Linked DNA regions of Homo sapiens. The protein of the gene in region 1 interacts with the protein of each later gene in a biochemical or structural test. Each region holds a gene or a part of one and is shown on either strand. Other genes may lie near its edges.

Region 1 (15,930 bases):
TATGACAATCCAGAAATATCTTGCTGAGAAATCAGTTGATGGATAGTTTATTCAAAGGCCATTATCTTATTGTTTCCACAATGGATAATAGACAAACGTATGTTGTTAAAACCATGTGTATTAATTTGCTAGGACTGCCATAATAAAATACCACAGCCTGGGTAGATCAAATAACAGAAATTTGTTTTCTCCCAGCTCTGGAAGCTGGAAGTCCAAGATCAAGATGTGGGCAGGTTTGGTGTGTTCTGAAGCCTCTTTCCTTGGTTTGCCACCTTCTCACTGCGTCTTCACTTGAAGACTTTCCTCTGTGTGAGCACATGCCTGATGTCTCTTCCTCTTTGTATGAGGACACCAGTCAAATTGGATTAAGATCTCACCCAATGGCCTCATTTTAGCTTAATCACCTCTTTAAAGACCCTATCTCCAAATACAGTTGCCTTCTGAGGTCCTGAGGGTCAGGAATTCAGCATATCACTTTTGCAGGGGACATAGTTCAGACCGTAATACTGTATGTGAAAACAAAAGCCTTTTCTGTCCCTTGAGTTTTCTTTGTGTTTGTAGAAGTCAACACACCAAGTAAAGATTTTAGAAAGTCTGGCTTTTCTATCATGAAAGTTACTTAACATTGAAATTATTCTTAAAAAGAAATTAATTCTGAAAAGTGTGACTTCTTAAAAGTTCATTGCTTGGGTTGGGGTGGGGTAGGAGGGCAAGGCCCAGCAAGTGGGTAGGCATGTGATCCGACACTACTGAGAGCCCAACTAGTCTGGGAAGCCGGACACAGGCACAGCAGATTCTGATGCAGGAGATGACTGACCACACTGGGAAACTGCTGCTGAGTCCCTTCCCTTCTTGCGTCTCTCCTGCACCCGAATCAGCTGCCTTTCCTGCCATGCTCCCATCTCCAAGGGAAGAACCAAATGCTGGGAGGCCCAGTCATCAGTCAGCCTCATTCCCACCCAGGCAGATCCACCCACAGCCACTGAGCAAAGCTGTGGCCCCTCAGACTAGCCTCCAGGTCCATCCCTCCTCTGCCAGGCACTCAGCAGCTTGTACCAGCAGGACCCATCCTCACCCTCTGAAGGACAGAGCTAAGCCCTGTCCACTGACAGCTTTGCTCCCCCAGGCCATGCTGAAAGCCTTGCACACACCATTTCATTTAATCTGCTCAGCAACTTCCCATTTAACAGATGGGAAAAACAAATTCCCATCTGAATCTGCCAGGTGGCAGAGCAAGGATTCAGAACCAAATTTGCCTGACCAAGGTCTCATGTTCTCCCTTTTTCATTCTATAAACCCACTGGTAAAGCCCAAAGGACTCCTTTTTTTAAAAAATTTAATTTTAATTTGTTTTTATTTTATTTTATTTTATTTTTAGAGATAAAGGGCTCACTTTGTAGCCCAAGCTAGTCTTAAACTCCTGGGCTCAAGCAGTCCTCCCACCTTGACCACCCAAAGTGTTGGGATTATAGGCATAAGTCACCACTCCCAGTCCCAAAGGGACCCTTTTGTGTCTACGTTTAAATGCATAAAATAAAATACAGAGAATTACAAAGGAAACTAATTTATTAAAATATGTACTTCTTTATTAATGGTTTAAACAACAAGATCTAGCAATGGATCTAAACGTTGCCAGCATGTTGAAAATTGTTGGTGTGTAGTTGTAATATGATGTGAAATATCACGTGAAAACTATGGGTGAAAGAATATCAGATATTATGGTTTGTGGCCTGCATTCATAATCAAAGGAAATGCTACATTTCAGTTAGTGCTTAGTAGAAATAATATGTACTTTTTTTTCATACAAGTTCATGAACCCTTGAATTCTATCCACAGACTCTGGGTGTGAGGATCCAGGCAGGAATGCCTGGTCTGTTAGGATCCGTGCTCTAGGGCCAAGGCCTTCAGTAAGATCTGGCTGTGGCTCTGATGTGGGCTGTCAAGTCCATGAGAGGAGGGAAGCCCTCCTCTCCCAGGGCCTTGGGGCTCTACTTCTCTGGGGAAGTTGGAGGCTGCCAGGAAAGTAAGTTCCAGTCTGCAACACTAGCAAGCCCCTCTGAAATAGGGCTGATTCTTTTGCCCAGATCTCACAGTGCGGTGGGGTGATGCTGGGAGCCCTTCAAGTGGCAAGCACTCGGCTTGTTTGTGTGATACACAGTTCTTTCACTGCATATATATTTAGTAAGAACCCTACTTTGTGCCAGGTATTGGCAAGACCCCATGGAGTCCATAGGCTGGTGGAAAGACAGCCAAGAAGTGGGCCTGGTGTGGCCGGTGGGCCCAGTGTTGGGGCACACGAGCTTGGTCTTTGATCCAGGGGCTGAGTGAGGTGGCAGTATTGGAGTCTGGGGTTTCTCACACACTTCCCTTGAGGCCCCAGCCTGGAGAAGTCCAGACCGTGCCCAGCAGTTGTTCAGCTAGAAGGGAGGAGAGAGGACATGGCAGCCTCCCTCATCTGTGTTACCATTGAGATTGGAAAGGGACAGTTAATCTGGAGGGGAGTGAGAGATGGGGCCAGGGAAAGCAAGCCATGCAAACAAGTTCGCAGAGGAAGAGAGGAAAGAGCACTTAGTTCTGCATCACCCTCTAAAAAGTGAGAGCCCTCACCCGTAGACCCTCTCCCCACTGTCCATCTGAAGTGGCCAGGAAGGAAAGGCAGCACTTCTTTCAATACCTCAGACCCTTTAATAGCATCTTGCTCCCTGAACCTTGTTTTTGCCTGCTAATTTCTGCAATCTGGCCTTGGCTCTGGCCCCAGCCATGACTGTTGCCATTTCTCCCACACTAGCCCTCTGGACCATGAAGTTAACACGCCCTCCCTGGAGCTGTCATCCAGAAGTTAATATACAAGTCAGTTAGTGCACAGACAGTACTAAAACAGCAGCAACAGAGAATTGTAAAATAATTAAGGAGGCCTTTCAGGGTGGCAGCCCCTGAAAGGGTCCCCATTCCACAGTCTGCCCCCTAAGCTGTGCAGGACAGAAGTTCAATTTGATCTCTGTTACGAGAGCCGAACTCATGACAACCATACCCATAAGAGGTTCCTGTTAGTTGACCAGAATATCCACCCTTTCCTAGATATTAGGATCACAGAATGACAGAAAGTTAATCGGTGAACGTGGAGTCAGACAAAATAGTCTTGAGGGATTTTTCATCAACCAAGCACGTGGATGCACTGTTCCCACAGCCCATCTCTTGGGCCCACCGGGCAGACCAGGCTATCCCCCTTCCTTGGTAAGCCTTTCCCAACTCTGATCATACCATTGATTTGGCTCCAGCATCTTTCGCAGTAGTCAGGCCTGAATCAGATCCCTTTCGTTCCTGCTGGTCCTAGGAGACGTCTGACTCCAAGGCCTCTGAATGTGCCGCTGGAGATGCCCCTTGATGGAGGACCCCCTAACACAGGCACCCAGTCCTGCTCACAATGCCCATGTGGCCCTATGGGTGACTAATTGATGTCATGCCAGAAAGAGCAATTTAAGAAACAGACTTTAAAAGAATCCTTGCCTGAGACAGTCTCTTACTGAAAACAGATTCCAGCCTAGTTAACAGGTGAGCTGTGGCACTAATTCGCCTGCCTGAAAGTGTTTATCAGACCATTAAAAGGGCAGTGAGTGAGTGAGGCAGTGTTATCCAGCAGAAGAGCAGGAAGCAAAAGGACATGACTGAATGAATTGCTTCAGGGTGTTTTAGGGAGTGATTTAATTTCTCTGAGTCTATCAAATGAGCACAGCGATGCTGGCTTCCGCTGTCTTAGGAGTCAGAGACCACGCAAGGATAGAGCCCTGGATCCAGCAGATTCTCCATACATGAGAGCTGCTGTTGCTGCTGTGGAATTTAAAATTTTCATTTTCTAGACCGCCCACTTTGAATGGGACTCTTCCGAACTGTCTTAATTCTTGTTTCCCGGCGGCTGTGACAAGTCCAGCAGTGTCTTTTTTAGCTTCTCCAGTCCATTTCTGTTCACAGAAAGCAAGCCATTTAGCATTATCTCAATAGAAAGTATTTGTTTAGGTTTCAGTTTTCCACATTAACTTGTAGTGGTTGAACTAAATGAATATTTTAAATTCTAAGAAATTGTTTTTTGCAATTAAGGGACTATTGGGAGTTTAAAAAGCCTGACACAGTGGCTCACACCTGTAATCCCAGCACTATGGGAGGCTAAGGCAGGAGGATCGCATGAGGCCAGGAGTTCAAAACTAGCCTGGGCAACATAGCAAGACCCATCACAACAAAAATAAAAGATAAAAATAAATTAGCCAGGCGTGGTGGCATATGCCTGCAGTCCTAGCTAAGCTACTCAGGAGTGAGGCAGGAGGATTGCTTAGGCCCAGGAATTTGAGGCAACAGTAAGCTATGATTATGCCACTGCATTCCAGCCTGTGTGACAGAGCAAGACCTCATCTCCAAAAAAAAATTTAAAAAAATTTTTTAAAGAAATATAATTCTGCAGTTTAAAATTTGGGACACATGTCCTGTAGAAATAATGTTATTCAGGTGGCCAGTGACCCAGACTGCCCGCTGGCTTAAGGCTCGATCTCTACATAGGGCTTTAGTGCGTATGAATCACCCAGGGATCTTGTTAAAATGCTGAAACGAATTCAGCTGGGGGCAAAAGGGACTGGGAGTTGACATTTCTAACAGCTTCTGGGTGGTGCCCACGCTGCCTATCCAGGACCACAGTTTGTGTAGCAAGGATGGGGTGGGAGAAGCTGGCATTGCTTAGGGATGAGAACAGTGGGTGAGGCGTTGTCCTAGACAGGGCAGAGGGAGCAGGGGTTCTAGTGAGGCGAAGGAACAGGACTGCAAGGATTAGAGGAAATGGGGAGAGGGCTCCTGGCTGGTGTAACTCACCAGGCACTTCCTGGCCATCGTCTCTCCTGGCCCTGGTGTTTGCCAGGCTGCCCTCTCCGCCCTGCCCCCTCACCCACCTGGGGTCCCTAAACTTTCCTACCCAGCTACGGAATCTGGTCTTCCCTTTGTTTTCAGAGCAAGCACACTCTGCAGAAAGGCTCTTCTTTTTTATTTTATTTATATATAATTTTTTACCCAAACAAAGCTAAGACAGGCTCTTCTAAATGAAATGCATTTCTGGTAAACAGCCTGGGAGTCCTAGGTCTGACTTCTCATGCCCGCTCTGTTTTCGCTTAGATCCTCTGAGGAAATGCTAAGGAGCACAGAGATAGGGATGGCTGGTCTTTGAGTGCTCCAAACATAAGGTTGACCCCCCACACGTCCACCCCGCCTCAGCTGCTGCTCCCTGCTTTCCACCTGACATTCTCCATGCCCTCTCCCTGGAGGACTAGGAACTTTGAGGGCGGGACTAGAAGTAGATTCATTTTCATATTCCTGCAGTGCACACACAGACTTGGCGAATGTCAGGAAGAATGGGAGGAGAAAGCCAGAGGGGGTGGGAGAGCATGAAAGGATTGTCATGGAAATTAGCGAAGAGGAGAAGCCACTTGAAGTGAATTTGTTTTCAGTGAAACTTGGCCAGGATACATCCTAGCAGTTGTGTGAGACCTTCCTGCTTAACTGGGCCCACCTGGGTCGGTCATGGCCTACTGTAGTGGGTGGGGGAATGGAGCCGAGTAAGGCACTGGATGTGGCCTCCATTCTCTCCAAGCACCTCGGGTCAGAAGCCCCTCTGCCGGGATCCTTCCAGAACAGTAATGTTTTAGCAGTGAGGTGTAAAGGTAAGCCCATCTCTTCTAAGAGTTGAGCTAGGTGGAGCTGTCACTTTGGTGGGAAAGTGAAGACAGATTAGGACAGTATTACTAAGATTACATCTAATACATGATCGCATTCTTGTTTTTCCAGATTTATCAGCAAGACTGTTGAACGCATAACTGCCCAAGATGCCTGTCCCTCCCCCTCCAGCACCCCCGCCGCCCCCGACGTTTGCACTGGTGAGTGTCTCCTCCCCAAACACTTTCTATGCATAAAGCAAGCCAAATGAAGCCAAAACCTGGCGTGCATGTGTTTGTATTAAATGTGTTTGCATTCTGGCTCACATGTGATACAACAGGCTTTCCCAGTGCCCAGGGTAAGCCAAATCCTGAAACCCAGCAAATACAAACAACACGAAGGGTTTTGTTTGTTTAAGGTCTCGTGTGATGGATAGTACAAGGGTGGAATGTGGCTGATGAGGTGTTTTCTGCCGCATCTGCGCAGGGACATGTGCTGGCCCAAGATAGGGTTTGCAGGATCAGTTCTGAGACCAGTGTGCACTGTTTTCATTCAGATGAACTCAATGTCTGGCCTTTAACTTCTGGGCTGGACGGTCTAGAAACCCAGGTCTCTGCCTGCAGTGCATTCCATTAAAGTGTCTTCCGGTCTCACTCCTTTCTTTTTTTCTGCCTTTTCCCCTCTTCTTCCCAATCTGTTTTTGACAAATATCTCCCTCCACCACCTCTGCCATACACATTCACATCCTCCTTTAAATCTATACTTGCATTTAGGCATTTAGATGTTTATTTCCTGAAAGAATTTCTTCAGTGGATTCATCCTGGTCTTTTTTTTTTTTTTGAGTCTCGCTCTGTCACCCAGGCTGGAGTGCAATGGCACGATCTCAGCTCACCGCAACTTCCACCTCCCGTTCAAGTGATTCTCCTGCCTCAGCCTCCCAAGTAGCTGGGACTAAAGGCAAGCACCACCATGCCCAGCTAATTTTTGTATTTTTAGTATGGACGGGGTTTCACCATGTTGGCCAGGCTTGTCTTGAACTCCTAACCTCAGTTGATCCACCCACCTCGGCCTCCCAAAGTGCTGGGATTACAGGCGTGAGCCACTGTGCCCGGCTCATCCTGCTCCTTTGATAGACCTCTTTGGGGAAGTTAGTGTGCCCTCTTCAGGAATTTGGCAACTCTCCACTTGGTCATATGGAAAGGCCCCAAGATACGCTCTGTTACAAAGCCCTCTCCAGCTTGTGAAGCCTTCACTGAGGAGGAGCCTCACACTGATGGTTCCTTCATTTTCACCATTTTCACATGGGGAAACTGAGGCTTGGAGAGAAAGTTTCTTGCCCCAGGTTTCCATGAGACACATTTATATAACTCATCTGAGGTTGAAACCTAGTGAGAAGAACTGCCTATTAATTAGCTTATTGTTACTCAGAGTGTGGCCTTCCAACTGCTTTTTAAGAGTCCCCAAAGTGATGAGGACAAAAGTTGAAAGTAAGCATTTAGAAGCATTTCTAGCAATTTGACAGTAGTTTTCTGTTTCTAAGATTGGATGTTGTGTGTCTTTTTTAAAAAACTAATTCATTTTTCTAATAATTCATTGTTATTTTACAAAAGCGTCAGTTCCTGATGAAAATATTTTTCAAAAGACTGGTCCTTGGCCAGGCGTGCACTTTGGAAGGATAACTTGAGCCCAGGAGTTCGAGACCAGCCTGGGCAACATGGCGAGACCCCCATATCTACAAAAAAAATGTTAAAAATTAGCCAGCCAGACATGGCGGTGCGTGCTTATAGTCCCAGCTACTCTGGAGGCAGAGATGGGAGGATTGTTTGAGCCCAGGAGGTCAAGGCTGCAGTGAGCTGTGATTGCACTACTGCACTCCAGCCTGGGTGATAGAGCAAGACTCTGTCGCAAAAAAACAAAAAACAAAAAAAAAGTTGGTCCTTCACATGGGTAAGTTTGAGAACCTCCAATCTGGCTTACATAGCAGGATTCATTTATCCATGTTTCCCCAAAAGTGTGGGCTATAGTGAACTGACTTAATAAAAAATATTAAATAAATAACACAGGTGGTATGAGAAGATGACAAAAATCATGAATCTTATACCAGAATGCTTGAAGTTTGGGAAACCTTGCTTATCTTATCAACTCATTTCTATCCGTTGTTACCTAATTCAAAGCAAGATTTTGGATAAATAGAATATAGAGATGAAGAAAGGGAAAAGGTGGGTTGGTGGCCATCATAGAACACTGCCCTTGTGAAACAACATAATTAAGGGCCCTGAACATGAGAGAAGTTAGCACCCAGGGAGGTCAGCTGTCAAAATAAATTTTGAGGCAGAACAGGAGGCTACTGAAGGTTGCTGACCCAAAACTGTTAAGAGATCCAGTGTGACACATCACTTAACCTCTCTAGGCCTCAGAGTTTTTTCATCCTTAAAATGAAGACAGCAGGTAATGTTAAGAGCTCTTTTCCAGGACATCCAAAGTATGTTAAGTTGAAAACAAACAAGTTGCAGAACAATAGAGGAGAATCCCATTAGCAAAAGCAAACTGTGTATGCAGAGAGCATTTCTGGAAGGACAGCAGAGAAACTTTTAACAAGCATGCTTCAGCGGTGTGTTGGGGCTGGATGGGGAGGGGCATTTTAGAGCCCACATTTATCCTTCTATCAGCTTGTAGGGAAGGCTCTTGACTGCCAGGGTTTGAATCCCAGCTCCTCCTCAACTAACTAGGTGCCTGGGGCAAATGATTTAAACTCCCTATACCTCAGTTTCCTTGTCTGTAAAATGGAAATAATAACTCACAGGGTTGATAAGGGCTAAATGAAGTAATACACATAAGGTGCTGAAAACAGTGCCTGGCACAGAGTATATGTTAACTATTATTATCATAAGCAAGTAATACTTCATCATTTAGTTATTTCAAGATGCTTCCAACTTTACCACTGCAATTCTGGTTAGCCTACTTCAGGGTTTTTCTGAGTTCTTCCTTTGCCTCTAACTCTGCTAATAAAAGGCTGAGTTAGGCCAGGAGCAGTAGCTCGTGCCTGTAATCCCAACTACTCAGGAGGCTGAGGCAGGAGGATCACTTGAGCCCAAGAGTTCGAGGCTGTATTGCATGATGATCACACCTGTGAATAGCCACAGCACTCCAGCCTAGGCAACATAATGAGACTCTGTCTCTAAAAAAAAATTGTTTTTTAAAGGCTGGGTAAGGTATTGAGCCATACATTTCCCCAGCTTTTCCTCCTGTGGCCCTAACTGGCAAATCTGAAATCATATCCCTGTCAGAAGGGCTGGGGCCAGCCTAGAAAGGACCTGTGGGTTTGGGGCAGCCAGACTCTCCCTGAGACAGACAAGACCTAGCCAGTTTCCAAGTGTGATAGACACAGGCACACAGGCAGGTGCCTACATCTAAGTCCATTTGCTGGTCTCTTAGTGTCCCCAACTCCCTGAAGGAACAAGATCCCAATTTCATAGTAGGTAGGGATCTTTCCTAGGAATTCTGGAAATATAAGAAAATAATCAGACATGTTAAAGCAGCATTTTTGTCCATTCCACAATTTCCATGAGCTAAGCTTTCATCAGAATTAAACATCAGAAACACCTCATGCCAACAGGACATGAGGGAACTTTTGAAGTAATGAAAATATTCTATATCTTGATTGTGACGGTGGTTTCACAACTGTATATGTTTGTCAAAACTCATAGAGCTGTAACTAAAAAGGGTGATTTCACTATGTGTAAATTACACCTTAATAAATCTGACTTAAAAAGAGAAAAAAAGCATCTTTGGCAATATACACAGAGGGAATTATTTTCTAGAACTTTAGTGGGTTTAAAAAACATACAGCTGACTCTTTTTGCTAGAGACAGTTTTTCCCTTGCACTGGGGTAGTTCTAAAAGATGGGAAAAGGAAGTTATTCTTCAGGGTACCCTCTAGTGAATGACGTCTGGTAATGTCCTGCAGAATCCTCCCAGACTTAAAATTCTTTTCTCGTGTCTAGTCATCTCACCCTAACCTGGCCCTGTTAGTTTCAGTCAGATTGTGGTCTGAATTTTCAGAGACTTTAATCAAGGACTGACTCTTCCTCCCTTAAAAATGAACATAATTTATTGCTGCATCTGCTTCCAAACGTCTGGATCTTAAAAAGAAAGATATGGGGTCTAAAACTTGTCGAGAATTTACAACCTATCACCAAGAACCTTAACAACAAGCTTCCCGTACCCAACCTTTCCCAGCCGAGTGTTACAATGCATGATTTTAACCCAAGAGATGACTACTTGTTTGTATGGCTCCCTTTCAGGCCAATACAGAGAAGCCTACCTTGAATAAGACAGAGCAGGCTGGGAGAAATGCTCTCCTTTCTGATATCAGCAAAGGGAAGAAACTAAAGAAGACGGTCACCAATGACAGAAGTGCACCAATACTGGACAGTAAGTAAAAAAAGGCTATCTACCATGGAGAGGAACAGTTTATGGCCTAATAATCAACCCTACCCTCACCACTCAATTTTTATTTTATTTTATTTTTTGGTTAACAACAGCTGCAAAGCTAGCAAAATAAGGGACTGTATCACTCCCTGTAGGCCGCAGCTTTGGCTTGGGTTCCCCTCTAATGCTGCAAGAAGCCAGTATAATAATTCTTTGTCCAAGACATACACAGCAGCAATTCTCTGCATTATTCACAACACTTTCTGGAGATTAACCCATTGCTCCTGGCACCACAGATGAGGAGGCAGCATAAAATATGGAAAGAGCCCTAGCCTTGGAATCAAAAGCTGTGGGTTCAAGACCTGGCACATCCATCCTGTACCATCTCCAAGCCTTGTTTTCTTCATTTTAAAATGGAGATGATAATACATGTTCTATTGACCTCACAAGTTTGTCATGAGCTTCAAATGAGATAATGCCTGTAAAATGTTTTGTTGTCTGGAAAGTGTAATTCAAGTGTAAGATACAATTATTAGGAGCTTAGAGAGAAAGAAAATGAGGTCACAACTTCAGTTATCAACCCACCTAAGTCTGAGGTACTTTCTGGAACAAAGCTACTTATTAACATTTACAACAGGACAAAAAATAATCCATGACTAGAATTCTACTGGCAATTAATAAGTAGATCTTAAGCCTGTCTCCTCACATTCCTAGACCCTTCCTTTGCCTGCCAGATGTCCCCAAGATTCATCCTAGACTACAGATCCCATTTGGACGGAACAGGAAATAGACTGACCTTCCAAAATCACCAGATGGATCTTTGTCAACAAGTGAATAATGAGGCAGAATCTTTGCAAAGTAAAGGATTAGAAGTGCTTCAGGGAACTTTCTGGGAGAAATACCTAATGAGTAGAGAAGGAAGAAGAAGGATCAGAGTTAGGTGGACTACTGGTTTGGGAGGAAAAAGGAAAAGTGAAAGACCTAGATAAGGCCTTTGAATGTTGTTCTGTTACCGGGCAAAGTGCTGCGAGTGAGAATGCACTGCTTTCAAAAAGGAACTATGGCCGGGCGCAGTGGCTCGCACCTGTAATTCCAGCACTTTTAGAGGCTGAGGCGGGTGGATCACTTGAGGCCAGGAGTTCAAGACCAGCCTTGACAACATTGTAAAACCCCATCTCTACTAAAAATACAAAAATTAGCCAGGTGTGGTGGCACATGCCTGTAGTCCCAGCTACTCGGGAGGCTGAGGCACAAGAATCACTTGAACCAAGGAGGTGGAAGTTACGGTGAGCTGAGATTGTGCCACTGCACTCCAGCCTGGGCAACAGAGCAAGACTCTGTCTCAAAAAAAAAAAAGGAACTAAGGTATTTAACTCTTGACACAGTCTGACTTGTAAGTCAAAATGCCCACAAAACGAATGTGGTTATAATATATTCCCTCTAATCCCTCAGCCCTCCAAGCCCTCCAATAGCCATCTGAATCATGGTCCCTGGTATGAGGCCAGAGGAGCTGACCTCTAGGACAGAGGCCTGTGGTTCTCCTCACTGCAAGAGGGAGCCTAGGGCTCTGTTGAAGGAGGCTGGACAGTCTAGACCTATTCCTGAATCCACTAGTGGAAACCTTGAAGAATTGTATTCTTCAATGTCCACTTCTCTTATTTAATGGAAATAGTGTTAGTCCTTCTCTCTTCCATGATGTTTAATAATGTGCTTTCCTTGATGGAAGGAAGATACAGTCCAGTGCAGGCCCTTGTCCACACACTCAACTGGACACCTATACTGCTGTCACAAGCTCTTTGCAAGCAGCAGTGTTTATCCACAGTTTTGTATCTGTTTGCATGTGAAACTTCCCTGGGCTGTATGTCAAAATGTTGACCATGGTTATGTGTGATAACTCAGCCCTGTCCTACAGTTTAATTACTGAAAAAATAATCTGAAAGCTTAATCCTCAGCTTTAGCTTCTCTTTCTGAAAGATGGACAGATGTTGCAGGTTAAGAACACTAATGGGCCAGGCACAGTGGCTCACACCTGTAATCCCAGCACTTTGGGAGGCTGAGGCAAGTCGATCACCTGAGGCTGGGATCACCTGAGGCATGGAGAAACCCCATCTCTATTAAAAATACAAAATTAGCCGGGTGTGGTGGCGCATGCCTGTAATCCCAGCTATTTGGAAGGCTGAGGCAGGAGAATCGCTTGAACCCAGGAGGCAGAGGTTGCAGTGAGCCAAGATCGTGCCATTGTACTCCAGCCTGGGCAACAAGCGTGAAACTCCATCTCAAAAAAACAAAAAAAAGAACAGTAATGGGTGATGTCTGATAGTGCAGGAGTCCCTCTAAAGTTTCAGTACCATGTAAACGTGTCCTGTGAAGTGCAGTATTCCAAAATGTGTCATTCATCAATGAATAGTGTTTGAATGACAAGGGCGATGTTAATAGCAAAATTTTTAAATTTTATATGGAAACAATTTTGCATACACTTCTAGAAATTGTTAGTCTTATATGATTTATCCTGTTAGGTGAAGTAATTCTTGTCAGTTATTATCAGATTATTTCTTCCACAGCAGAGCTACCATAAGCATCTCAGAAAGCTCCACATCTAGAAAAGATACAGAACTAACACAAATTTATGATAAACCTAATCCAGAAAATGGAAATAAAAATGAATAAAAGTGGAACTCAGAAAGCAGATAAAATAAGAGATTCAAAGCATATTTTCTAAAATTAAAGTAGTGTAATAAAGTTATCTGCTAAAATGTTTTAAGATATTAAAGAAAGTACTTTTCTAAGAAAAGCATATATTTATTCAGGAAACCTCAATGAGCAAGGGAAAAGATAAAAACTTTATTAAATTACTTTCTCTCCAAAAAGTTTTGGAGCCAGATTATTTTATTAGCAAATTCTTTCAAATTTTAAGAAACAGCTAATTCAAATGCTGTATAAGTCATTCCCCAATATATTAAGAGATGGAAGGCTGTCTAATAATTGTAATGAAATTGGCATGATCCTAATGTCAAAACTTGACAAAGGCAGCACATAAAAAAAGAAAGCTGTACATTAGTGGTTTTCAACTGAGGGTGATTTTTGCATTCCAGGGGATATGTGGCAATGTCTGAAGACATTTTTAGTCACTACTTTGGGGGACAGGGAGGGCTGCTACTGACATCTAGTGGGTAGAGGCCAGGGATGCTGTAAACATTCTGTAAAGAACAGGACAGGACAGCCACCCACAAAAAAGAATTATCTGTCCCAAAATGTTTATAATTAAGAAACCCTATTATGGACCACTTATCATCATAGATAAGAGAACACTAAAATACCAAAAAACAAATCTAAATCAATCAGATGTTACAAGAATAATTCACCAACACCAGGGTTTATCCCCCTTTTTTTTTTTTGGAGACAGGGTCTTGTCTTGTCACCCAGGCTGGAGTAATGGTATGAACACAGCTCACTGCATCCTTGACCTCCCAAGCTCAAGGGATCCTCCCACCTCAGCCTCCCAACTAGCTGGGACTACAGGCATGCACCACCACATTTGGCTCATTTTTTGTAGAGATGGGAATCTCACCATATTGCTCAGACTGGTCCTGAACTCCTGAGCTCAAGCAATCCACCCGCCTTGGCCTCCCAAAGTGTTGGGATTACAGGTGTGAGCCGTTGCACCTGGCCTATCCCATTTTTAATGTTAGAAAGTCTATCCATCATATCAAATAAAAAAGACCATCAAAAAGCCTCAGTAGATCTTGAATAGGCATTTGATAAAATTTCATGCTATAATAAATTCTTGTAAACCTAAAATAGAAGGATCCACAGACTGAATATTTAGAAAGGGAAAAAACCTATTTCAAACCAATAATTCATATTAACTTTGAAATATCAGAGGGATTCTCATTAATATCAGAACATGATTGCCTTTAGAAACGTTAATAATTTACATTGTTATGGAAATTTACCCATCAAAGTAATTACTTATATAAAACAGAAATAAGACATACAACTCTTAGAGAAGAGGAGGCTTTAAACTGTCATTATTTGAAGACCATGTGCATACTAGAAAATGCAAGATAATACATTTTTAGTAAATTTTATTTAGAAAACATAGCAAAGTGGCTTATTAGATATTAAATACAATTTCCTGGTGCCAAAAATAACCAATTACAAAATATAACAGGAAAAACATCCCTTTCACAATTTCAGCAAACAAAAATACATTTGAAGTAACCCTAACAAAAAGCATGTGTAATGTATATCATAAAAACTAAAAAACTTTGCCAAAAAATCCAGAAGACATAAATAAATGGGAAAATATACCACATCTCCAAATGGAAAGTCTAAATATCATAAAAGTATCAGTTCTCCCAGATTAATTTGTAGATTTCATATACTATTTATCAAAAACTCAACATAGTTTTTTGGGAAGAGGACTTTAAATAATGTTTAAGCTCATAAATACAAACATGCATACATACATAAATTAAGAGATAATTTTTTTAAAGAGGGTATAAGCATGGCTTAAACACAACTAATTTGCACTTCTTTGGACAAATACCATTGCATTAGTATCAGTTTTCTATGCCTTTCAGAGTGATAAGATACTGTGGCTCAAAGACAATGGAAAGTAACCCAGAAGACTAGACAGAATACTCAGTAATCTTTTTGTTTGTTTGTTTGTTTGCCTCCCATCAAAATCTTTCACAATTTTTTGCAGATAAATTCAAAATAAAACAAGATCTTTATACCCTCTCAAATTGCAAAGAATGTTTAAATTACTAAAGCCTACTATTGGGCTTCATGATATTAAAAAATTAATAGCAATCTAAAGGGCCATCAAATGAGTAGTTAAATAAATTTTAATGTAATACATTCATGTTCTACAATACAATAGAATCCTTTAAACTCATGTTTTCAAAGAGTATGACACAAGAAGTGCTAACAAAGTGTTAAATGAAAAAAGCAGGCTTAATACTGCTTAGTGAATTTGTTCTTAATTTTAAGAAAAAACACATAAAATGAAAAATACTGATGGGAAAAAGTATAACTCAATTGTGGATATTTGCTTAGTGTTTTTTTTTTTTTTTTTTTGCTGGAGTGCAGTGGTGCAATCATAGCTCACTGCAGCCTCAGTGGGTTCAAGTGATCCTCTCACTCAGCCTCTTAAGTAGCTGGGACTACAGGTGTGCACCACCATGCCTGGCTACATTTTGTTGTTGTTGTTTATTTTCGTAGAGACGAGGTCTCACTTTGTTGCCCAGGGTGGTCTCAAACTTCTGGGGCCTAAGCTATCCTCCAGTCTCAGCCTCCCAAAGTGCTGGTATTATAGGTGTGAGCCACTGTGCCTAGCCTGGATATTTGTATATTTGTGAAATTATGAGATATTTTATTTTCTTTTCTTTTTAACTCTTTCCTTTCTTCTCGCCTTTTATGGCATCTCCTCCTCCCTTGCGACCCTCTTTCTTTGAAGATCCTTTTTACTGAGACAGGGTCTCACTGTCACCCAGGCTGGAGTGCAGTGGCACAGTCTTGGCTCCCTGCAGTCTTGACCTCCCTGGCTCAAGCGATCCTCCCACCTCAGCCTCCCAAAGTGCTGAGATTACATGTGTGAGCCACTGCACCCAGCCTGAAGATCCTTCTATTTGCCAAATCTTAGGATACGGAACAAACAGATACTGACCCATGTGGCAGCCAGTCAAGTGGGGAGTGTGGGGACAAATCATCCTTTATTTTCGTTTCTTCCACCACTGGGCTTGGGACTGCCTGGAGCGGGCAGTTCTGACTGAGCTGAGGGAACTCTTAAAATCCTGCATTTTAATG
Region 2 (15,930 bases), on another chromosome or scaffold:
CAGATCACGAGGTCAGGAGATTGACACCATCCTGGCTAACACAGTGAAACACCGTCTCTACTAAAAAAAAAAATACAAAAAATTAGCCGGGCGTGGTGGTATATGCCTGTAGTCCCAGCCACTCAGGAGGCTGAGGCACCAGAATCGCTTGAACCTGCGAAGTGGAGGTTGCAGTGAGCCGAGATCACACTATTGCACTCCAGCCTGGGCAAAAGACTGAGACTCCATCTCAAAAGAAAAAAGAAAAAGAAAAATTAGCTGGGTGTAGTGACAGGTGCCTGTAGTCCCAGCTACTCAGGAGGGTGAGGCAGGAGAATCGCTTGAACCCAGGAGGCAGAGGTTGCGGTGAGCTGAGATCACACCATTGCACTCCAGCCTGGGCAACAGAGTGAGACTTCGTCTCAAACAAAAAAAAACAAAAAAAAAAAGAGAGAGAAAAATCAGCTTGGTGTGGTGGTGCATTCCTGTAGTCCTAGCTACTCGGGAGGCTGAGGTGGGAGGATCACCTGAACCTGGGACACAGAGGTTGCAGTGAGCTGAGATTGTGCCTCTGCACTCTAGCCTGGGCCACAGTGCAAGACCCTGTCTCAGAAAAAAAAAAGAAAAAAAAGGCTGGTGGGGGGCTTTTAGGCGCGGTGGTTCGTGCCTGTAATCCCAGCACTTTGAGAGGCTGAGGCTGGCAAATCACTTGAGGCCAGGAGTTGGAGATCAGCCTGGACCAACATAATGAAACCCCATCTCTACTAAAAATACAAAAAATTAGCTGGGTGTGATGGCGCATGCCTGTAATCCCAGCTACTCGGGAAGCTGAGGCAGGAAAATCACTTGAACCTGGGAGACAGAGGTTGCAGTGAGCCGAGATCGCGCTGTTGCACTCCAACCTAGGCAACAGAGCAAGACTGTCTGAAAAAGAAAAAAAAAGTTATTGTGTAGAGGAATTTTTCACTCTGTCTAGACAGCAAGATTACTTCACGTTTGTGCAATCTTGATTTGTACACTGACGTTTGCAAGGAAGGTTTAATGTTGAGGATGGACAGAGTCATTATCTTCTTTTGAACCGTATTGTAACAGCTTTATCGAGATATAATTCACATACCATACAATACGCCTGTGTAGTGTGTACTCTCCACTGGTTTTTAGTATCTTCATGCAGTTGTACAACTGTCACCACAGTCAATTTCAGAATAATTTTATCACCTCAAAAAGAAGCCCTTGTACCTTTTAGCCATGACCTCCCTATCCTCACCACCACCATCCGCCCAGCCCTGGGCAACCAGCAATGTATCTTTTGTCTCTGTAGATTTGTGAACTCCAGACATTTCCTAGAAATTGAATCGTATAATATGTGGTCTTTTGTGCGTGGTTTTCCTTTGCGCAATGGATTTGAGGTCCCTCCACGCTGTAGCAGGTGTCACTGCTGGATCCTCTTTGTGGCAGAATAAAATGCCTTTGTGTTAGGTAGACCACATGTTATGTATCTATCAGTTGATGGACATTTGGAGTGTTTCTGTTTTTTGGCTGCTATGAATAGTGCTGTTCTGAACACTCACGCACAAGTTTTTGTGTGCTTATACTTTATTTCTCTTGGGCATAGACCTAGGAGTGGAGTTGCTGAGTCATACAGTACCTGAGTTTAACCTTCTGAGGAACTGCCAGACCTTTTCCATTTAACATCCCTGTCAGCAGTCTATGAGGCTTCCAGTTTTTCAACACTGTTGCTGAGATTTGTCATTGGCTGTTTTATTTTAGTCATCCTAGTGGGTATGAGGTGGGTTCTCATTGCAGTTTTGATTTGCATTTCCTTGGTGGTTAATGACATTGAACAAACTTTTCCTGAGCTTGTTGGCCATTTGTATATCTCCTCTGAAGAAATGTCTCTTCAGATCCTTCAATCATTTTTAAATGGGGTTATTCGTCCTTTTTATTGAATTATAAGAGTTCCTTTTTTTTTTTTTTTTTTTTTGAGATGGAGTCTCACTCTGTCGCCAGGCTGCAGTATAGTGGCGCAATCTCGGCTCACTACAGCCTCTGTCTCCCGGGTTCAAGCAGTTCTCCTGCTTCAGCCTCCCAAGTAGCTGGGACTACAGGCATGCGTCACCACGCCCTGTTAATTTTTGTATTTTTCGTAGAGACGGGGTTTCACCATGTTGGCCAGGATGGTCTCGATCTCTTGACCTAGTAATCCGCCCGCCTCGGCCTCCGAAAGTGCTGGGATTACAGGCGTGAGCCACCTCACCTGGCCAAGAGTTCTTTATATATTCTGGATCTACAGTTCAAAATACTTTTCTCTCAGGATCGTCTTGTCACCTTCTTGATGAAGCACAAAATTTTTAATTTTGTACAATTTATTTTTTTCCTCTAGTGTTTTGGTGTCATATCTAAGAAACTATTGCCAAATTCAAAGTCACAAAAATTTACACCCTTTTAGGATTTTAGTTCATTTTTGAGTTAATTTTTCTGTATGGTTTTGAGGTAGGGCTCTAGAGGCTTTTTATCTTTGGATCCACAAAACAATCAAACTTATTTCCTATTGGTTATTTTTGTGATTGTTTTTTAAATTTCCAATATTGAGAGTATAAAATTGTGGATCTGAGCCTATCCTTAGCTGCTCATGAGTAGATTTTTATTATTTACTTTATGATTGATTTATGTATGAGACAGGGTCTCTCTCTGTCTCCCAGGCTGGGGTGCAGTGGTGTGATCATGGCTCACTGCAACCTTGAGCTCCTGGGCTCAAGCAGTTCCCCCACCTCAGCCTCCTGAGTAGCTGGGACTACAGGTATACACGACCATGCCTGGCTAAATTTTTAGGCAGAGTTGTATAGATGCTTGCCGATTACACTAATAACTGCAGTAACCAGAATGTAGCAAGCAATCTGTAGAAGTTAGGATTGCCGAAGGGAACTGGGGAGAGAGATGGAGCAAACAGTTGGGTCAGAAACCAGATAGGAAATTAATTAATTACCAGGAGGGCCAGCCAGGCACCATCCCCTAGTTCCTAATGCGTGAGAAACCACTCTGCCTGTGACCGGCTTGTTCCTAGGGACAAGGGGATTTCATTCGTCCATGTGTGTTGTCTAGCAGTATGGTGTCCAGTTGAGGCTGATGTGTGGTCCTAGGGAAGGGGTCGTGTGCTTGGCCACCCTCTGGGGAGCTGGAGTCTTGCTCCCTGCGCGGTAACCGTGTACGTTCATTAGGAATGCAGCCCGCCTCCTCCTCGGCTCTCCAGCTGCCAGTCTCATGTCTTGATAGACAGTCACCATACTGGTTTTTCCTCCCGGCCATATCATGATCCTCTCAAGGAGTGTTTTTCTTATATTATTGTTTTAAAAAGCTCACAGTAACAATTTTATTTTATAATGTCATTAATTAGAATGAATAAAAAGTGAAAATCTCTAAGAATTATGGCAAACAGTAAATGCATACTAGCAATTAAGGCAATAATTTCTGTTTGCATTCATAAGAAACATCATGTAGGCCGGGCGCCATGCCTCACACCTGTAATCCCAGCACTTTGGGAGGCCAAGGCAGGCGGATCACCTGAGGTCGGGAGTTTGAGACCAGCCTGACCAACATGGAGAAAACCCGTCTGTACTAAAAATAGAAAATTAGCTGGGCGTGGTGGCGCCTGCCTGTAATCCCAGCTACTTGGGAGGCTGAGGCAGGAGAATCACTTGAACCCGGGAGGTGGAGTTTGCGGTAAGCCGCGATTGTGCCATTGCACTCCAGCCTGTGCAACAAGAGTGAAACTCCATCTCAAAAAAAACAAAACAAAAAAGACAAAAAGTCATCATGTAGTTAGAAATCTTTTAAAACTTATTTCTTTAGTTTCTCTCTGTTGAACTTTTTTATTAGTAAAATGCAAGTCTTCCCATCCTCCTCTCAGATTTCATTACAAAACCTTGTTACGTTTGGGAAGATTTCTGAAGTTTTCTAAAAAGATCTCCACACAGAAGGGTTTGCCCAGGGAGCTGCTCAACATACATCCTTCTCAGCTTTTTACCCTTAATCTTTTTACAGACGGAATCAGTCCCCAATGCCTGGAAATTCCTCATTGGATTACTGTGTTTTAAACAGAATTTCGTGAACAGCCTTTTATCTCCAAGCGGAAAGAAAGGTACTTGTGCATTGTGAACATCCTAACATTCTTTTCCTGTGGATGGTAAGGGCAAAAATCCCTTTAACAGGAAACGGGGGAGGTTGCTGTTTCTGTGGATTTACTGGGAGAGAGATGATAATATTCTGGAAGGAAATTTCATTGTTTAAAAAATAAAGTCAGGTTTCTGTTGCATATGACTTAGAGGAGACAATTGCAGAAAACTCTGGAATTGAGGAAGAGAACCATTCCTGTCCTCCCTGAGGGGAAATCTGGCCCCTTCCCCACCCCATGAACATGGGTGGGGCCCCCAGGCACAGGATTGTGAAGCTCGCAAGTGCCCACCCCGCTCGCTGGTGAAGCTGTGTCCGGGAAGATGAGCAGAGACTGTGCTCTGCTAATCTCTCCCCGATGAGCCTGAAAAAGTACCAGGCAAAGACACCTGCCGCCTTTCTCCTTTGCCTTGGGGGTGAAGGTGGCCTCGCCAGCCCTGCAGGGACTCCCATCCTTTCTTGCAGCCACCTTCTCAGTGGTGGGAACCATGGGCAGCTGAAGTCCTGCAGGCGGGCAGCCCCCTCGCCAGGGCAGCATGGTGCCATGGGGCGGCCGGAGACCAAGCATCCCGTTTCTCTTTCCTGCAGCCGTTGCTTCATTTATAAATGGGCGCGTTGGGACAAGATGGACTGGTTGTGCCTTTCCGTTCTGAGATTCTAGTTCATCTGTTTTCTAAAATCCTGGCAAAAGCAGATCACTCTGGAAATTCTTGCCATGCTTTGGGCATTGACAGAAGGTTCCAGGGGCACTGTTAGTCCTGCTACACCCCTTGGCAGACGGTTCTTCCCCAAGAGACAAAGTCGCACCTAGAAATTTGAGAGCACGCTGCCCTGATTGGTCCCTCACTGTCACATTGGATTTGGACTTGAGACCCAGCCAGGCTGGAGGGAGAGGAGCCAGATGGGACATTCTCAAGCTGCGAAGGGGTTTTGTCCAGTCCTGATTCAGGGCGCTAGAGTCCCAACATGGCACCTGAGAAAAAGTGAATTGGGTGTCCTCAGTTCAGACCCCTGGGCACAGCTTATGGTTGTTTGATTTAAAATAATCTCTCAGTTGCTCTGTGGCCTATGTGTAATTGTATTACTATTTCTGTGGAAAAGGAATCACTTCTTTTTATACATAGTTTGAAAAAAAAAAAAAAACCTTAAAATTTTATATTTTACCACTGCAGTTACAAGAATTGTCTTGTTAGGGTTTACAGATGTGCCATTGTTCTGTATAACAGAGAAAACCTTCCAGTCTTCAAGGGCTGAGGGAGAAGGTGGCTGCCCACTTGCAGAGCTGCCTGATAGAGGAAAAGGTGGCATTTTATATTCCTGTTTTCTTCCAAGTAGAGAGTAAAGCAATTCTCCAATAAACTACTTGAAACATTTATTAAATTGTAAGTCTGAATTAGGAAAATTATTGTTATGGTTTCAGTAAGCACTTGAAATCAAAATGGGTGCACTTTTTAAAAATGTGTGATAAAATACACATACCATGAGATTTACCATTAGTAACATTTAGTATATTTATAATACATAATCCAAAATGGTGCTTTTATTTTTGGTTGGAAACTATCATCATATGATTGAACAGAACAGGAATATGTTCTTAATGAATAAATAAGTGCACACACGACTTTTTTATTTTCCAGAAAATTTTCTCACTCAAGGTGAAGCCAAATAGTATTTCCAGTATATTTCTGACGTCAGGTGACGGCAGTGTTAGAACCCCGAGGTGAAATTTCTTTTACTCCTGTGGTTGTCAGTCAGGCTTATGGATCATGAAGGATTGGCTGGTCCTGCAGCCTCGTCCTCCTGGGTTGCCTAGAATCTCGGTAGTTTTGGCCAAAGGGCTCATCTGCTGGCCTCTGTGGATGGCGCCCTGAGGCCTCCGTAACCCTCCCCGGCTGCTCTTTCAGATGTGGAAAGCTTCAGCAGGCCACGCTGTGTCCATCGCCCAGGATGACGCGGGGGCCGATGACTGGGAGACCGACCCTGATTTTGTGGTAGGAGCCGCCAGCCTTTGCTTTCCTCTTTCATGAAGTGGAAGTGGCTCTCCTGGGTTTTTCTTTGATGGGGTGGTGGTTTGTCTGTGTCACAATCCAGGCTGTGAGATTTACTGGTCGCTTTTCTTTTCAGAATGATGTGAGTGAGAAGGAGCAAAGATGGGGTGCCAAGACGGTGCAGGGCTCCGGGCACCAGGAGCATATCAAGTAAGAGGCGTCGCCACCACCCTCCCGAGGGCCCCTCTGCGGATGGAGCCCCAGGTGCAACAGGGCCCATGGTCATCTGTGGAGGGACAGCCCGTGTGGAAACTGCATTTATCTTCTTGACCTGATACCCATGCAGTAAATGAATATAAGACACACACATATATGTGTATTTGTGTAATGTGTGTGTTTATATGTGTATATTTAGATACTTCTGTGCTCAGTAATTTTTAAATTCCCATTGCAAACAATTTCCGTATTTATAATTTTAGAGTGTCCGCTTCTCAGTATTGTGGCTTTTATCAGGGAACATTTGTCCCTAAGCTCTACCTTACAAGCGAGAGGTTTCTAAAGTATGAGATGTCTGAATAACTGAGACCTTAAATGCCCTGTCCCTTTTTTTATTATCTGGAAATGATTATGTGTTAATAGTGAGGTACTGTGAGCTTTGTGTTCTTATCGAAAGCCCAGAGTTGGGCACTGAGTGAACCCTGTCATTGTTTCTCACTTGGCACTATCTAAAATGCCAGCTCTTGGGGCAGTTTTTTTTTTCGTCAGAAAGTGTAGATAAAAGGAACTTTTAAAATATGCTCAGACTTTTATTTTAGGCCACGCTGGGTTCAGAGTGGATCCTCCTTTCCCTGGCTGTGAAGGCAGCACCACTGACCCGGTGACCGCCTCAGTATCCCGGGAAGACTGTCCCGCTTGACCACGGTCCCTTCAGCTGAGAAAGATTTAGTCCTTCCTCCAGAAAAGAAGGCACAGCCTGCACAATGGCTTTTTATTTTGTTGTTAAAGATTTATTTATTTATTTATTTATTTATTTTGAGACAGGGTCTCACTCTGTCACCCAGGCTGGAGTGCAGTGGTGCAATCATAGCTCACTGCAGCTTTGACTTCCTGGGTTCAAGCGATCCTCTCACCTCAGCTTCCTGAGTAGCTGGAACCATGGGCGCACACCACAATGGCTAGCTAAGTGCTTTTATTTCTTGTAAAGATGAGGTCTTGCTTTTGTTGCTCAGGCTGGTCTTGAACTCCTGGGCTCAGGTGATTCTCCTGCCTCAGCCTCCCAAAGTGCTGGGATCACAGGTGTGTGCCGCCGCACCTGGCCCCCAGTGGCTTTTTATACACAAGTTTTAGTCCCTCTCTGGCTTGCTCAGCACACTCCCTTCCACAGAAGCAGCTTCGGAACTCCGGTGGCCGTGCGGCTGCCCAGGACAAGAGACTGGAATGGGGCTGACTTGGGAGTCCACTGTAGCCTTGGGTATTTGCTATGGCGTTAAGCAGACTCCTGAATTCGTTGAGTCATCATACCTCTTCTCATCTCTTCTGTTCCCTGTGGCTTCAAAACATGTCTCGGAGGGTGGCTTGGAGAAAAAACAACTCTCCAGTACAAAACCCTTGGGCTGGTTAGGATTCAGAGAGGAACACATGGGGAATAAGCCCATTCTTCATGCTCTGGGGCCTTCCCAGGTTTTAGGAGTGGTGTCTTTCTTTCTCCTGCTCATAAGGGTATTGGGCGGTTTCCAAGCCTGGTTTGTATTTCATCTTCAATTCTAGGATTGTCGTCCAGATGTCAAAGGTGGCGTCCTGGTGTCTCCTGGGCAGAAAGTCCGAATGCCAAAGTGGCCTTCTTATCACTCTGGGGTCTCTCAATGACAGCTGTGTCTGGCCTACCAGATTTGAGCAAACCTTGTCATCTGTTTCATTATCTGCTGTATTAAAATTTTTTAATGGCATTTAGATGTTAAATTCTGAAACGCTTTCCTCTCATCTTTGAATGTATAAAAAAGCTGGAGTACTTCAAGTACAGACGAATCATCTGAATGTTCAGCACCACTGGACTTCTGCCAGTGGCCGAGGAAGGGACCATAGCCTCGTGTTTCCCCCTCTACCTCTGGATGATTACAGACTAGCTTTCCTATTTTCTGCGTGTGAAATAAAGGTCAGGCTTCAGTAGAGCCATCTTTAGCGGGGATTTGGGATGATCCCAGTGTCTGCCTTCAGATTCGTGTTCTGTCTCCCACAGAGCATGCGTCTGATACTGCAGACTGCCGAAGTGGGTGTACCAGCCGGCAGAATAGTCAGGAAGGCACAGTGCAGGGAGAGAATCGGTGAACATCAGATAAGCAGATTTACAAATTTACAAAGATAATGTCACCTGTTCTTATTTATCATACCAGGAGGCAAAGCTGCACGTCTGTTTTATTGATCTGTTCCTATTTTCATCTCTTCCATCAAGCATACACAAGCTGAGGGAGAATGTCTTTCAAGAGCATCAGACCCTTAAGGAGAAGGAACTTGAAACAGGACCAAAAGCTTCCCATGGCTATGGAGGGAAATTTGGTGTGGAACAAGACCGAATGGATAAGGTAAGTGGCCCGCGGCTGCCTATGCCAGGCTCCTGGTGTGCTTGGACCACTAGACTGGGTGGCAGAGTCGTCCCTCAGTCTTTCCTTAGATCAGCAGTTTTGAGTCCATCTGCTGAGGTTGCGATTTGCCCGGAGTAGACCCCTGTTGATTGGACTTACTCATGAAGTACTCTAGCTTTCTTCAAAGCTCTTTAGGAATCCTCAGAGGTGCTGGAGCACGGGTGTTAGTGGGGAGGCCCAGAGAGGGAGATTGGCCCTCAGAGGCAGCCTTGTGATAGGACAGAAGTCCAGAAGCATCCTGGCTCTAGGTGTCATCACTGTCAATGCCTGTGGTTCCAGTCTGTAGCCTAAGTCATGCCAGTCCGAAGACCAAAGTCAAATCTGTAGGTCCCCATGGTTCACAGCACACACGGAATCCAGCCAAAGGCCTGGCTAACATCCTTCATGCGTTCAGTGACCATCAGAGCAGTCTCCCTCGTGTAAATTCGGCGCGTACCAGGCTGGGGACAGTGCTCACTCTATTCGAGAGGTCTGGGCAAGCCTCCCAGCAGCTGTCATTGATGGGATGCAGACTGCCACGCAGACGTTGATTGAGGACGTTGGCCAAATGCATCCGGCTGCACCCGTGCTTTAGGTCCTCTCTACCTTAAGAAAGGGAGCCACGTTAGCTCAGGAGGGCTACCTTTTCCTTCCTGGAGAGAAGATGGAAGAGATCGCAGTGTGTTTGCATGTTTCTTCAGTAAAACAGACATCCTGGAGGTGAACTTTTGAGTCTGAGCAACATAAGCTTGTTCTGACCTGACAGATGCTTGCCTTTACTCTGTGGAAAGAAGTGTGTTAGCCAGTGTCGGATTCCAGCCGGTAATTCCATACCCCTCTCCCACCTCATGCACCAGCCAGATGAACATTTGAGCTGGGCACGGGATGATGTTGCCGTGTCACAGTGAGCTGCACCTTGCTCTGTCCCCCGCAGAGTAGATGATGTGGTGGGCCGGCAGGGCACCCCAAACCACGACCATAAATAGCCTGGGGGAGGAGTGGGGTGAGGGACCTTCTGCAGGAAAGAGACATGGATGTTGCTGCGTCACTACCACAGAGATGCCCTGACACCGAGAAGAGCAATGTGTGCAGAATCATCATCTTTGGAGTCTAAAAAAAGTCTGGTAGCTTTTAGGAGTGTAAACAGGCAGACGGACCCCTGAGTTCAGTGCAGCGAGCGAAGCAAGTGCACACGGACAGACGGAATCCATGTGTTCAGTGCAGCGAGCGAAGCGTGTGCACACGGACAGACGGAATCCATGTGTTCAGTGCAGCGAGCGAAGCGTGTGCACACGGACAGACGGAATCCATGTGTTCAGTGCAGCGAGCGAAGCGTGTGCACACGGACAGACGGAATCCATGTGTTCAGTGCAGCGAGCGAAGCGTGTGCACACGGACAGACGGAATCCGTGTTCAGTGCAGCGAGCGAAGCGTGTGCACACGGACAGACGGAATCCATGTGTTCAGTGCAGTGAACGAAGCAAGTAGATAGGAGCCTTTCCCACTGCAGACTGAGGCGAGCCCTGTGCTTAGGGGGCTTGTGGGGAGTTAGCGCAGAGAGACATTTATTCTAAAAATGGGGCTCCCTGCTGTGGGTTGGGAAAATTACATATTGGGGAAAAGAAAGGCAACGTGTCAGGAGAGCCTGGTAGGGAAGCTGCTGTGGCTTCTCTGCTGCTGCTCGGCCTGCACCTTTTTTCAGCGCGAATCTCGCTCACCCTAGAACCTGCAGCTCAGGCCTTCCCGAGTGCCAGGAGCTCCCTGGAAGAGCCCTCACTTCCCTCTCTCCTGTGCGGTCTCCACAGCAGCCTCTGCTTCCCTCATGAGCTGTCCTTGCCTCATCCTGCTGTCCTTCCCAGGGAGACTCCCCTCCGGGCTGGGCTTTTCAAGGGTCGGGACTTGTCATCCTCACCTTGTGCCTGGCTCAGTGCCACGTGCCCCCCCCTTAGGCCAGTGCTCTCATGGAACCAAGGAGGCTTATGGAGCCTTGCTCTCACCTCTCAGCCGGCAAGTTGGAGAGCTGTCCTAGCAGGGCGAGTCCAGCAAGGGATGCTGCTGCTGCTCAGTCCCAGCTGGCATCGGGGCCAGGTTAGCGCTCAGCTCAGGTCAGCACCATGGGACAGATACGTTGTCAAAAATAACTCAGGGCCAGGTACGGGACTGGCACCTGTAATCCCAGCATTTTGGAAGGCCGAGGCAGGATGATCTTATCAGCCCAGGAGTTTGAGACCAGCCTGGGCAACATAGCAAGACCCTATCTCTACAAAAACATAATTAACTGGGCATGGTGGTGCACACCTGTAGTCCCAGCTGCTTGGGAGGCTAAGCTGGGAGGATCACCTGAACCTGGGAGGTGGAGACTGCAGTGTCCTGTGATCGCACCATTACAGTCCAGCCTGGGCGACAGAGAGAGACGCTGTCTCAGGAAATAAATAGATTAAACTCAGATTCCAAACCGAAGGGGAAACGGCTTAAGTTATTTGTAACTTGCCCACTCCAGAAACTAAAAAAAAAATAAAAAATTGAAATCTCTGCGTTAAGACTTGAGGAATATGTGCTAGAGACTTCCAGAACAAAAGAAGACATTGAGGACAAGCACACGCGAGAGGAGCCTGGACGGGCTGTCAGGATTCTGTTTATGCTGGGGCCTGAGCACACTGCACCTTTCCCTTGCGGCCAGCGGTGGCTGCATCCATCACGCGGGGCAGGCTTCCTTCTTGATCCCTTGTCTCCTTGCATCCCGTAGCCCTGAGTCTACATATTCAGGCTTCAAGATACAATCTCCCCAGCGTGATTGTTTAATAACAGATTTTGTCAATGTGAAATCGAAGGCAATTTTGGAGATGAATCCCTTTCAATCAAAAAGCTGGAAACTTTGCCTAGTTGTCATTCTGGGCATGTCTTTAGATCAGTTTTCCTGTAACTTCCTTCTGATGAAAACTCATGCTGGGGAATCCCTTTGGCACGTCTGCCTCTGCCACTCCTTCATCTCTGTTTTCTGGGTGAGACCCCGGAGGACACGGATGGGCAGTCTCTGCCACAGAGGGTTTGGAGGTGATGGCTCATGTGGAAAGAGAGTCAGCTGCCAACCTCAAAACAAACGTGGGAAGAAGAGGGCGCAGCACAGGCCCAAGGCTTAGGGCAAGACCTGCTTTTTCAATAGGGGAAATAGTGGACACTCTCTGAGTTGCCTGCTGCGTCAGCACCGGTGTGGGATGCTGCTTGGGTTAGCAGGTTAGCATGAGTGGCTCCACATGCTAGAGGGAGTGAGAAGAGGGGTCCCGATGTGCCGTGGACTTTCTCCACGCCCTCTGCTGGGCCATGTGCCCGCACTGTCTGTGAAGGAGTCCTTGACCCGGCTCTGCTGTGAGGAGGGAGCCTCAGAACCCTGGGGCCTCGGTGTCAGGACTGGAGCAGGGCCAGTGCTTTGAGGTAGGAGATCTTTTCCACTTTGTGGACCAGAGGGTCTCTCAATAGAACTGCCGAACGGAGTTGCTGAATCACACAAGCAGCTGTGGACAGCACACCTGTGAATGGCTGTGGCTGTGTCCCAGAGGCGTTATTTACAGAAGAGCTGGGTGCCGGGTCTGGAAAGCCCAGGGGAACCTTGGGCTTTACCTGCTGGCTTTGGCGAACAGAAGGTCCCCAAACCTGTGTGCGCTGATGGGGGCTGACGACATTAATGATGCTGAAATGAGCTGGCATGGGAGCCGGCAGCTGGCTCCTGCCTGAACAGGGTGCTGCTCAGCGGAAATCCAGTGTGAGCCTGTGTCTTGCAGACTATTTTTGTTTATAGTCTATTAGAACAAAATAGTTTGCTGGCAGACTATTTTTTGTGCCGATTCTTTGGTCATGTGATTCACAGAGGTCCCACTTCAGTAGATGCCAGCAGTCTCCACACCAGCGGGTCTCACGGATCCTGCCACAGGCTGCCAGCTCTGTGTACCTTCTTCATGCCCGGTCGTGTCAGAAATCCCCACTGGTGGCCCCGACCTGTGTCCAGGGTTCGTGTGCAGCTTCCAGGAGCCCAAGGGCTGGGGTGGGCCGTGAAAGCCTGCACCAAGGGCTGGGCGCGGTGTCTCACGCCTGTAATCCCAGCACTTTGGGAGGCCGAGGCGGGTGGATCACAAGGTCAGGAGATGGAGACCATCCTGGCTAACACGGTGAAACCCCGTCTCTACTAAAAATACAAAAAATTAGCCAGGCATGGTGGCGGGTGCCTATAGTCCCAGCTACTCGGGAGGCTGAGGCAGGAGAATGGCGTGAACCTGGGAGGCGGAGCTTGCAGTGAGCCGAGACCCCGCCACTGCACTCCAGCCTGGGCAACAGAGCAAGACTCTGTCTCAAAAAAAAAAAAGCCTGCACCAAGGACCCGGGCCTCCCAGGAGTCGTGTCGCCTTCCTTGGCTCCCCAGATGGGTGTGTTAATGTAAGGTTTCCCTGCACTGACCAGGATGTGGCCTCCCCCAGCCCTGCTCTGGGAGGAAGTGAAGCGCCGCAGTGTTGTTGGTGTCTAATGCTTTGTGTTTGAACCCTGTTCCAGTCAGCTGTCGGCCACGAATATCAGTCGAAACTTTCCAAGCACTGCTCGCAGGTGGACTCGGTCCGTGGCTTCGGAGGCAAGTTTGGTGTCCAGATGGACAGAGTTGATCAGGTGAGTGATGTGGCACTGGGACTGGGGCAGGTTGGGGCAAGGGGGGCGTTCCCCGTAGATCTGAGCCCTGTTGGGCCACTTGTAGTAGCAGGCAGGTGCCCTCCAGCTCTGGGGGACTGCAGAGAGGGGCATCTGCCTCCCAGGATGCTCTGAGAGCCTGGGCTCTCAGAGAGAGGAAGCAGGATGCGGCGGGCTTGCTGTAGCAGTCCCTGCGGTCGCTCTTCACTACGTGCCTCAGTACTGGATGGCCCTGTGTCTGTCCCAATGTGCCAGCAGGGACCGTTTCCACCCGTGTTTCTCACATGTGTGTTACTGTGACAGAGTGACATCAGAGCCTATACCGGGGGGGCAGGATGCGCTCGTGTCCAGGACCCAGGCTTTGCGTCCAGGTGTTGTTGCAGTCATCCTAGGCCCGAGCCTCTTTGATTCTCTTCGGCTCGGGTCTGTTGGCTCTTTTGTTTAATAGAGGAGCGATCAGGAGCCTGGAGGGAGCAGGGAGCTGATGCTGGTCGCAGATTGTGGCTTTGTGACATATTAGCCACGGTTCTGAATTTATGTGTCTGTGAAAGGAGGATGATCATACCTATCTCACGGGTGTTTGCTCAGATGCCCATCGCAGTGCCTGGCTGGTGGGAGTGCACCCCTGGTGGCCACTGCTATTCTCATTACTAATACTAATGTTCTCAGCATGACTTATTTGAGAAGCGAGTTTTTGTGAAGCCCGTGGAATGAATCAGCTGAGCATTCCCTGCTGCCGCATGCTGGGGAGGGCAGGTCACCAGGGATATGGCTTGGCCTGCGCCGCCCACTGGGCCTTGCAGTGGGCCTGTCCGTTTAGGATGCCAGAGCTCTTGCGTCACTGCCACCTGCACCTGGCTTAGGAACCCAGAGGTCACAGCATCATGTGTTTCATATTTTTTTAAATGTCATGTCATGAATTCAGAGAGATTGTTTCAGGGACATTGGAAAGTATTTCTCCCCACTTTTTCATGTGTTTTTGGTCGTCACAGTCTGCTGTAGGCTTTGAATACCAGGGGAAGACTGAGAAGCATGCCTCCCAGAAAGGTAAGACGCGAAAGGTGCAGAAAGAGCCCGCTCCGGGGGCCCCGATGGGGAGAGTCACAGCCACCTGAAGCCGTTTCCCCGCGCTCCGGGGGCCCTGATGGGGAGAGTCACAGCCACCTGAAGCCGTTTCCTGAGCGGTGGCTGTTGCCACAAGGAGGACTCTGCCCTCCTCTTCATGTTTCTGGATCATCTGGATACCACATGATGGATGTATTCCCCGTTACACATCCCCCTCGGAGCCCTGGCATCTGCTGTCATTGTGGGGCTTCTCCCCCTTGTAGCGGAAGCCGCCTTCCCTTCATCTGGGCAGCGCTCCTCCTGGAAAAGAGAGCTCACAGATTGATCGGCAGAAAGCTAACTTCCCCCCAAGGCTAGAAACCAGAGTTGTTAAATTCTTGTTTTCCTTATACACATACGGTCTTAACTGCTGGTGATTAATCTTGATTACATCATGCAGTCTCTTTTTTGAAAGACCAAAGCATATCGCCACCTTAAAGTTCTCAGTTTATTTTTTGCAAGCTTATTTAGTTCTTCCTCCTTTGTGTCATTGCATCATCCGCGGAACAAGCTCTCAGTCCTTACGCAGTCTCGGTGCAGTCTAGGTGGAGGTAGCTGTGGTGTGGGCAGGCGGAGGATCAGGGTCTTGTCTCCCATGTTCAGCTGCATGGCTTTCTTCATATGAGGCTTTCTCTTTCCATTTTTTTCATTTTGTTTTGTTTGTTTGTTTGTTTTGAGACAGAGTCTCGCTCTGTTGCCCAGGCTGGAGTGCAGTGGCACGATCTCGGCTCACTGCAACCTGCGCCTCCTGGGTTCAAACGATTCTCCTGCCTCAGCCTCCCAAGTAGCTGGGATTACAGGTGTGTGCCACTACCCCTGGCTAGTTTTTCTATTTTTTAGTAAAGATGGGGTTTTGCCACGTTGGCCAGGCTGGTCTCAAACTCCTGGCCTCAAGTGATCCGCCCACCTCAGCCTCCAAAGTGCTGGTTCTTTGTATGAAGCTTTCCAGCTTTTACCTGAGCAGTTGATTTTCAAAGTGGGCATGCAGCGTCATTTCTGACTACACAAAGGAACTGCCCTGTAACAGCTGACAGGGCCCAGAACCCCCCCATGCACCTGTTGTGAAACAGGGTCCAGCGTCACCTGTATGGAGCAGTGGGTGGCTTGTTGTACATTTTAAAATGTGCGCTTGATGTGTTTGTGAGTTGTAACCCCTACACACTTTTGCTTAGTTTAACAAAAGGAACAGTGTAGTTCGTCCTCAGGCCCCCGTGCTAATTGCTGCCCTGTCTCTCCAGACTACTCCAGTGGTTTTGGCGGCAAGTATGGCGTGCAGGCCGACCGAGTAGACAAGAGCGCGGTGGGCTTCGACTACCAGGGCAAGACGGAGAAGCACGAGTCACAGAGAGGTGGGGCGGACCCCACGGTCTGTAATCACGCGTTTGCTCCAGAAACACCCA

What was found.
Region 2: the proteins of WIPF1 (region 1) and CTTN form a complex in vitro, tested with the Homo sapiens proteins (one study listed by BioGRID).

What each region holds. Positions count from the first base shown.
Region 1 is NC_000002.12:174,575,502-174,591,431, reverse strand, and holds part of WIPF1 (WAS/WASL-interacting protein family member 1), read left to right. Parts: intron 1-3,705; exon of another isoform or gene 3,706-3,959; intron 3,960-5,820; 5' UTR 5,821-5,858; coding exon 5,859-5,909; intron 5,910-9,992; coding exon 9,993-10,122; intron 10,123-15,930. UniProt on the Homo sapiens protein: Plays a role in the reorganization of the actin cytoskeleton. Contributes with NCK1 and GRB2 in the recruitment and activation of WASL.
Region 2 is NC_000011.10:70,401,245-70,417,174, forward strand, and holds part of CTTN (src substrate cortactin), read left to right. Parts: intron 1-4,020; 5' UTR 4,021-4,117; intron 4,118-6,053; coding exon 6,054-6,140; intron 6,141-6,273; coding exon 6,274-6,347; intron 6,348-8,586; coding exon 8,587-8,716; intron 8,717-13,297; coding exon 13,298-13,408; intron 13,409-14,418; coding exon 14,419-14,473; intron 14,474-15,768; coding exon 15,769-15,879; intron 15,880-15,930.